2 separate regions of the Homo sapiens genome follow, and region 2 is linked to region 1. The links come from fine-mapping of genetic effects on gene expression. A gene starts in region 1. The other region holds a variant in brackets. All regions are shown on one strand. Distances are between the middles of the regions. Region 1 holds the start of ZNF408 (zinc finger protein 408). Region 2 overlaps CKAP5 (cytoskeleton associated protein 5).

The links. PIP is the estimated chance that this variant, and not a neighbour inherited with it, causes the effect. A credible set is the group of variants that fine-mapping cannot tell apart.
Region 2: its variant is the best candidate, but not a certain one, in a credible set for the expression of ZNF408 in sun-exposed skin (GTEx, PIP 0.61).

The regions. Positions count from the first base shown.
Region 1 is chr11:46,699,040-46,703,424 of GRCh38, forward strand. It overlaps ZNF408 (zinc finger protein 408), which reads left to right and starts at 1,992. Exons shown (of 5, transcript NM_024741.3): 1 at 1,992-2,060; 2 at 2,360-2,637; 3 at 3,665-3,726; 4 at 3,945-4,204. The coding sequence starts at 2,009. It overlaps ARHGAP1 (Rho GTPase activating protein 1), which reads right to left and starts at 1,580. Exons shown (of 13, transcript NM_004308.5): 1 at 1,512-1,580. RefSeq lists a silencer at 1,336-1,455 and an enhancer at 1,786-2,075.
Region 2 is chr11:46,740,322-46,744,706 of GRCh38, forward strand. CKAP5 (cytoskeleton associated protein 5) reads right to left here. Exons shown (of 44, transcript NM_001008938.4): 43 at 4,105-4,256; 44 at 2,727-3,944. The coding sequence ends at 3,702. Among named protein-coding and RNA genes, the nearest start is that of MIR5582, 11 kb to the right of the region's middle. The variant C/T (reference allele first, on the strand shown) is at 2,134.

The DNA of each region.
Region 1 (4,385 bases):
AGGTAAACCTTTACAAAAATCTTAAGGATCACCTTAGGCAATCACTTTTAGGAAGTTGTAGACTTTTCTGAAATTGGTAACATGTGTGGACTTTTTCCCTAAGAAAACTTAGGAGATGTATGCAATTTTAAGAGGTTCATACACCTTCTGAGAATCACTGTTTAAGAACTTCTGGTCTATTCAGAATGACACCTGATATATAGTAGATGCTATCATTTGTTGAATGAATGAACCAATTAATTCATCTCCTAAGTAAAGAAGGGAACCCACACTTGTTGAGGGCCTATATAGGACCATGAACTGGGGACACAAACTCAACCTCACGATAGCACTGATGAGGCATGTTCTACTAAGCTCATTTTACAGTGAGGAAAGAGAGGACCAGCCGGGCACGGTGGTTCACGGCTGTAATCCCAGCACTTTGGGAGGCCGAGGCGGGCGGATCACAAGGTCAGGATTTGGAGACCAACCTGGCCAAGATGGTGAAACCCCATCTCTACTAAAAATACAAAAATTAGCCGGGTGTGGTGGCGCGCGCCTGTACTCCCAGCTACCTGGGAGGCTGAGGCAGAAGAATCGCTTGAACCCGGGAGGCGGAGGTTGCAGTGAGCCGAGATCACGCCACTGCACTCCAGCCTGGGCGACAGAGTGAGACTCCGTCTAAAAAAAAAAAAAGAAAAGAAATCATATTCTCAACGTTGGAATCGGCCTCCCAGTTGCAAATCCCACCACAATACAACAGCAATTACAACTCTCAACTACAATTATGTTTGCATAGAGCTTCACGGTTTACAAAGCCCAGGTTACGTTTTGCAATTATCCTGTTTCACAGATTAAGAAGTTGAACTGAGGCCGGGCGCAGTGGCTCACGTCTATAATCCCAGCACTTTGGGAGGCGGGGGCGGGAGGATCACGAGGTCAGGAGTTCGAGACCAGCCTGGCCAACATGGTGAAACCCTGTCTCTACTAAAAATACAAAAATTAGCCGGGCGTGGTGGCGGACGCCTGTAATCCCAGCTACTCAGGAGGCTGAGGCAGGAGAATCGCTTGAATCCGGGAGGCGGAGGTTGCAGTGAACCGAGACTCCAGCCTGGGCAATAAGAGTGAAACTCCGTCTTAAAAAAATAAATAAGTTGAACTGAAAGCGTGGCCTAATAAGTGGCAAGGAGGAACACTTCCCCCAAATTTCTTCTTCTTAGTGCTTTGCCAGATCAGATCTGGGAGATTTCCCCCTCCCGCCGGCTTGCTGGATGACAGCGATCCGGCCTGGACTCTGCCCTGGGGAAGGCAGGAAGAAGGTAGTGAAAATGATTAAGTCCTCTTATTGCAGGCGCCAAAATGGGGCAGAAACCCTGCAGGAAGGCCAGGCCTCTGAGCCCAGTTCCACCCCCGTTCCCCTCCTCGGATCTGCTCCGGTCCTCCCCATCCGGACCCCATCCCTTCGGACGACCTGGCCAGCTCCTTTCCTTTCCCCATCCCCACCCGGGGAGACCCCGCGCCCAGCAGCTCACCGCGCTCGGGCACTGCTCCCTCTGCCACGCCTGTCAAGGCTCGGCAAACATCCGGCTCCGCGGTGGAACGGGAACCGCCCCCTCCCGCTCTCTTCTATCCCCAACCATTTCCGCCACACCTCCAACCCACTTCCGGCCCCAAACATGGCCTTTCCAGGAGCCCCGCCCACTTCCTGCACATGCCCGCCTAAGTTCCTGCCTCGGGGAGGTAACAGCATAACTGTCCGACTCGTCGCTCCCAAAGAGATGGCTGGAACAATTAGTTCCGCTTTCCCAGCTAGTCGAATCACTGGTGCACCTCCGGAATCCGAGGTTCGCATTGCTCTCGGACAGAGTTCTGCCTCCCCAGTACTCCCAAACTCCCAGTCCTGTGCACCAATGAGGTCCAGCTCTGAGGCTTCTTTCCTGAGAAAAAAATTTGGAAGTCCGTGACTGTTTCCTGGAGGAGCTGAGAAGAGGAAGCTCACTTCCGGCGTAGGGAGGCTTTCTGACCCGGAATGGAGGAGGCGGAGGAGCTGCTCTTGGAGGGGAAGAAGGCGCTGCAACTCGGTGAGTGACCTGCGATGTCCGCGACCCTCAACCTTGGCCCAGGTGGATCTGACGCTCTGTGGTCAGCTTTCTCCTCAGTCTTCTCTCCTCCGGATCCCAGGATCCTCCAGTGCCCTCAGAGTCGCTGGGGGCTTCTGAAGAGCCCTTGAGCCTCCTCAAAACTTTCAGGGCCCTCCTTAGAGCCCTCACCTGTCCCTCGGGCTCCGCAGGCCCACCTGGACCTGCGGTTTCCTCCCACACTTTTCCCCACCTCCCACCTTCTTGGGTGGCTCCCTCACTGTCTTCCCTTCTCTCTGCAGCCCGCGAGCCGCGCCTGGGCCTGGACTTAGGATGGAACCCTTCCGGAGAAGGCTGTACGCAGGGCCTCAAAGACGTCCCACCCGAGCCGACCCGAGACATCCTCGCTTTAAAGAGCCTTCCCCGGGGCTTGGCCCTTGGCCCCTCACTCGCCAAGGAACAGCGCTTGGGGGTCTGGTGTGTCGGGGACCCCCTGCAGCCCGGCCTGCTGTGGGGGCCGCTGGAAGAGGAGTCTGCCTCCAAGGAGAAGGGCGAGGGAGTAAAGCCACGGCAGGAGGAGGTATTGAAGGATAGAGCGACTTCCCTCCGCCCTTGAAAATGTAGGGGAGGTTTGGACATTGCTAGACAGCTTTTCAATTTGAAGAAAGAGAGTATTTCAAGAGATAGGAGATAGTCTTGTCCCTTCTCTTCAGGACTGTCTCCTCTCAGCAGCAGTAGTTAAAGAATCGAGGTTTGAAAAGTTGTTGAAAGCTGGAATCATACAGTGTCAGCAGTGAGTGAGGAAGGTCAAGAGCTAAGGTTTTTGGAATTAAGAAAGCATGGGATCAAATTCCAGCTTTGTCACCTAGCTGGTTAAATTACGTGCCGCATTTAATTCATCTGTGAAACAAAGCAGTGGCTCTCTTGGGATTATATGGAGGAGCTGATGAAATAGTGAAGATAAAAGGTTTCACTGCACAATAAGTACCATTTTATTTTATTTATTTTTCTTTTTTCTTAGACAGTCTTGCTTTGTCGCCCAGGCTGGAGTGCAGTGGCACGATCTCGCCTTATTGCAACCTCCACTTCCCAGGTTCAAGTGATTCTCATGCCTCAGCCTCCCGAGTAGCTGGGATTACAGATGTGCACCACCACACCCAGCTAATTTTTGTATTTTTAGTAGAGACAGGGTTTCACCATGTTGGTGAGGCTGGTCTCAAACTCCTGGCCTCAAGTAATCCGCCTGCCTGGGCCTCCCAAAGTGCTGAGATTACAGGTGTGAGCCCCCGCGCCTGGCCCAATAAATACCATTTTAAAAAGCTGGTGTTCCTTATTACTTTTTCTGTTTAGTACTCACTGGAAGACAGTAATGTGTTCAATTTAGTAATTCTCCATACCCTTGGGAGGGAGGTGAGGAGACAGACTTTTTGGTCCTTACTGAATGAAGAATCAGACAGCACTGTCCTGTTAGAGGAGAACCAGAGGCTTCTAACCTTCCAGGAGTTTCATCTTAAATTTGTCCCAGGAAAGTTTCATCTAGTTTCTTTTTTTATTCCTACCCGACCCCTCGAACACATTTGAGAAGGACTTTTGTTGGTTTATTTCAGAACCTGTCATTAGGCCCATGGGGAGACGTGTGTGCCTGTGAGCAGAGTTCTGGCTGGACTAGGTAAGTCAGAGGAGAGTGTGTCGTTCCTTTGAGGTTTTCTGTTGTGGTTTGGGATGGAACCCGGTGCTGACTGTCATTTCCTATTCAGTGCTCTTTTGCAGTGAATGTTCCAAAGGCACGGCGTCCTTTAGGACCCAGACTGCTTGGGGACTGGGGCTTTCGGGGAAGACCACTTGAATAGTGAGCATCTCCTAGCTGGCTGTTACTTTGCTTTGCAGCTTGGTACAACGGGGCAGGCTGGAGAGTGAGGGAAATGTGGCCCCAGTGCGGATCAGCGAGAGGCTTCATCTGCAAGTGTACCAGCTGGTGCTGCCAGGCTCTGAACTGCTGCTGTGGCCCCAGCCTTCCTCTGAGGGCCCAAGTCTCACCCAGCCTGGGCTGGACAAAGAGGCAGCTGTAGCAGTGGTGACAGAAGTGGAGTCTGCTGTACAGCAGGAAGTGGCCTCCCCTGGGGAGGATGCAGCAGAACCTTGCATAGGTATGTGTCAAATAAATGCTGGTTTCCCAGCAATTTCCCCACCAAAACAACCTGTTGATAAGACAAAGCAGAGTTTATGGCTCATTGCGGTAAGGAAGGACACTATAGAGTCTTAGTAGCTTTTCAAAATCTGTTTTAAGGTGGATCTTTCAACATGGGATAGGAGGGTGGGGCTTGATTA
Region 2 (4,385 bases), 41 kb after region 1:
CTGAGGTGGATGGATCACAAGGTCAGGAGATTGAGACCATCCTGGTGAACACGGTGAAACCCTGTCTCTACCAAAAATACAAAAAATTAGCCAGGCGTGGTGGTGGACGCCTGTAGTCCCAGCTACGTGGGAGGCTGAGGCAGGAGAATGGCATGAACCTGGGAGGTGGAGCTTGCAGTGAGACAAGATTGCACCACTGCACTCCAGCCTGGGCGACAGAGCGACTCTGTCTCAAAAAGAAGAAGAACCAACCATGCATACCAAAATCCACAGATGCTCAAATCTCTTATATAAAATGGCACAGTTTACATATAACCTATGCACATCCTCCCATATACTTCATTTTTAAAATTTATTTTTATCTTTTTGAGTTGGAATTTTGCTCATTGCCCAGGCTGGAGTGCAATGGTGCGATCTCGGCTCACTGCAATCTCCGCCTCTTAGGTTCAAGTGATTCTCCTGCCTCAGCCTCCCGAGTAGCTGGGATTACAGGTGCCCGCCACCACGCCTGGCTAGTTTTTGTATTTTTAGTAGAGATGGGGTTTCACCGTGTTGGTCAGGCTGGTCTCAAACTCCTGACCTCAGGTTATCCACCCATCGGGGCCTCCCAAAGTGTTGGGATTACAGACATGAGCCACCCTGCCCGGCCTTCCCATATACTTCAAATCATCTCTAGATGACTTACACCCAATAGAACGTAAATACTATGTAAATAGTTATACTGTATTATTTTAAAATTTGTATTATTTTTATTGTTTTCTTTCCCCACAAATATTTTCAATCTGCAGTTGGTTGAATCTGCAGATGCAAAACCCACAGATCTGGAAGGCCACCTGTATATTAAAAGGTGTATATAACGACATTACTTACCTCATACGGTTATGAGGATTAAATGAAAGAACTTACATGGTGCCTTAGCACAATGCCTAGTGCCTAGTAAGCTGTGAATCACTACCACTCGTATTCTCACTATTGCCTGGGAACTGGACCGGGCATTGGGCCTGTTGAAAGTTCCTCTGCCGCTTACCTCGTCCCTCTCTTGGGCCCTGGAAATAGCCCATCAGTGGGGTAGTTGCTTCCTGGAATGTTTCCTCACACAGCAGTTCCCAGCTGGAACAATTTATTTTTCCAAGAAATGGGACCTCTAAGTTATAAGAGTCATGGGCTGGGCATGGTGGCTCACGCCTGTAATCCCATCACTTTGGGAGGCTGAGGCTGGTGGATCACCTGAGGTCAGGAGTTGGAGACCAGCCTGGCCAACATGGTAAAATCCCGTCTCTACTAAAAATACAAAAACTAGCCGGGTGTGGTGGTGGGCACCTGTAATCCCAGCTTCTCAGCTGCTTGGGAGGCTGAGGCAGGAGAATTGGCTGAACTCAGGAGGCAGAGGTTGTAGTGAGGAGAGAGGCATGCCACTGCATGCCATCCAGCCTGAGCGACACAGCAAGAGTCCCTTGCAAAAAAAAGAATCATAGAACTTCAAAGATACCCTTTCAGAGCACATTCTTCACGGTTACTGTTGGCAGAGGTCACAGGTGTGGGATGGAGCATGGCTCCGTCTTGAGAAGTCTCATCCATGAGCTCAGGGAAAGAATGAAGATCAACGTCTGCCTCAGGCACAGGATAGTGGAGTGGAGCAGGGAAACCCTGTGGCTACAGTACCTGGCCTAGGATCTTCTAACGTGGTTTTCCACGGGAAGGGACCTGAGATAGGGATCTTTAGCACCCTCCTCATAACGTTTTTTTTTTTTTTTCTCATTTTTCAACACATCAGAAAACAAACAGGACAGAGTTCCTTGGCCTCATTCTTTGGTTCTGGTTGACTGAAAGGCAGTGAGCTTGCAGGATTTGGCAGCCCAGGGCATCAACTCGATCAAGGGGGAAGGGATTCAGAATTACTTGTGACATGCAGGACCTGCTTTTTAAACAAGAACACACATTCTCATAAGTCTGTTTTCTTCCGACATAGCGGTCAGTGTTGTAAGCTCTAGGGACTTGGGTTTTTCCAGTCAGCTGTGCTAATTCCAGACAGGAGTACAGCCACTCTTTTTTTTCCTCTTCTTTTGTTTCCCTCCTCTTTTTTGAGACAAGGTCTTGCTCTGTTGCCCAGGCTGGAGTGTAGTGGAGTGATCA[C/T]GGCTCACTGCAGCCTTGACCTCCTGGGCTCAGGTGATCCTCCCACCTCAGCCTCCCAAGTAGCTGGGACTACAGGCTTGAGCCACTATACCCAGCTAATTTTTGTATTTTTTTGGTAGAGCCATGTTGCCCATGTTGGTCTTGAACTCCTGGGCTCAAGTGATTCACCCACCTTAGCCTCCCAAAATGCTACGGTTGTATGAGTGAGCCACCAGGCCCAGCCTTTGTAGCCATTCTTTCTAAATATGTCTTTCCACTATAGCAGCAAACGCCTCCATCATCCCTTCAGTGAACAAATACCCACTCCCATGTTCCCACTATAAAGGAGAGACAAGTTTAATTTCAGGAGGCTCCGGGGCCACCTGAAAACGATGACTGGAACCTTTACAGGATTAATCTTCCATCAATCTTTCATTTCTTGGACATCAATTGAATTGAAGGTGGGCTACAATAGGAAAGTTCCTTTGAACTTTATAACTGCCCAAAATCTCCTCCTGAATCCAGAACCTTTTCATCCTGAAGAGTTTTTCTGACTGTGGAGGGAGGTCCTGTGGAATTTATTCCAGAGGTGAATACTCAGCTCACTTTCTCATCCTTACTCTGACTGAATGTGAAGCAACTGTTAGCCTGGACCAAAAGAGACTCATACAACCAAGCAGCAAACCACTAAGATTTCCCAAACTCCATTAGTCAAATGAACACAAATCTAGTTGTAGTGTGAGAACCACTGAAGCCCAGCCAATCTCTGGGCGCAATCTTGTGTGCCTTTGGTCAGCAAAGTGGTAGGATGCCCAAGAGCTTCTTGAAACGACTGGTGATAATTGGAGGGAAATCATGACCAAAATCTCAAAACAAGGAAGGATGAGATTTTTCTGCTCCCTAGGAGCTGTTTGTGGAGAGCAGGGAAGGAGAGTTCCTTCCATTCCAAAGGAATAAAAGACAGCTCCAAGTCTGTGAGCCAAGAAAAAGGGAAGCTCTGTAAGCAGTAATTAACCTTTCTCTAACTGGCTGAATACCCAGCTGGTACCAAAAGTTAAAAAATTGCTGCCCAACACTCCATGATATGGAGCATCTTGGGAGTCAGGTATAGTTAATGCAAACTTTATTTATAAAAGACTCTTAAATTAGTTGTATCATGCCATGCATTCATACAGAATACAGTGACCCTTCAGGGCGACAGAGAAGAGCTCACAAACTGAAAGGAAAACTATTAAAGAGTTTCTAATATTAACTATTAAAAAGCTAGGAAAGATTAGGACAATTTTACAAATGAGCAATTAAAAAGAAAAGAAAAGGATCTGGGAACTAGACTGAGCAGAGAGGGGGCAGCTGTTTACAAGTCTGTACACTAAACTCATCCACGGACAGTCTTCTAGAGCAGCAGGACGCTGACAGAGAGAAGCAGAGTATGTACAAATACTTGTGCCACAATGACTCCTCCCCCTAGCTCCACGGCATGATACATACAACCAGTTTGTATACACTAGGCCTGCTGAGGCCATTTTAAACTATGAGGACTTCTAGTTTAGTAAACTAAAGCTGCAGGGTGCCGGGGGAGTGGGGCAGCTTCATTTGCGACTGCTCTTTATTCTCTCCAGTCTTTTTTTCAAGTCGTCTATGTTAGCTGTGGAGGAGGAGGAGGTCACAGTTCCTGAAGAGTGAGTCTGGTTAGAATCCAGGTCTGAATGCTGGTGCTGCTCCCGTGACTCCCGGAGCTGAGAGAGTTTGCTGTGGAGCATGTCTGTGGAAGAGGCGACAGTAGGAACTGCTGGTTTGGAGAGCAAAGAGGTCAAAGGAGGTCGGTCATCTTGCTATTGAGAGAAGGAGAGAGATTGTCTAAGGTCAGGTCAAGCAGGTCAAGATGCAGCTCCAGAACTACAGCAAGACTAAGCCACTTCTCTGTGGGCCAGCCTGCCTCGGACCTGCTTGTGACTACCCTCCCTGAACTGCACAGAAGAAAAGGAGCAGTACCTTTGTGTTGTCCAGACCACATCGCTGTCGGAGGATCTTTAGCCTTTCCAAGTAGACAGATGGCCCCACTTCTTCCCCATTTGTGTTACCTATGGAGGACACTGTGCTTGTGGGCGTGGGCACACATGTGACTTCCATCTGAGGGGAGATGCCTAGAGGGGAAAAAGTAGAAAGAATATTCAGATATCCACATATCCCCCTTCTAAAGTGCCTTGGTTAATCTCCCACCAAAAAGAACAATTAAGAATTTCCTATACTTGAAAACGACAAATTCCACAAGA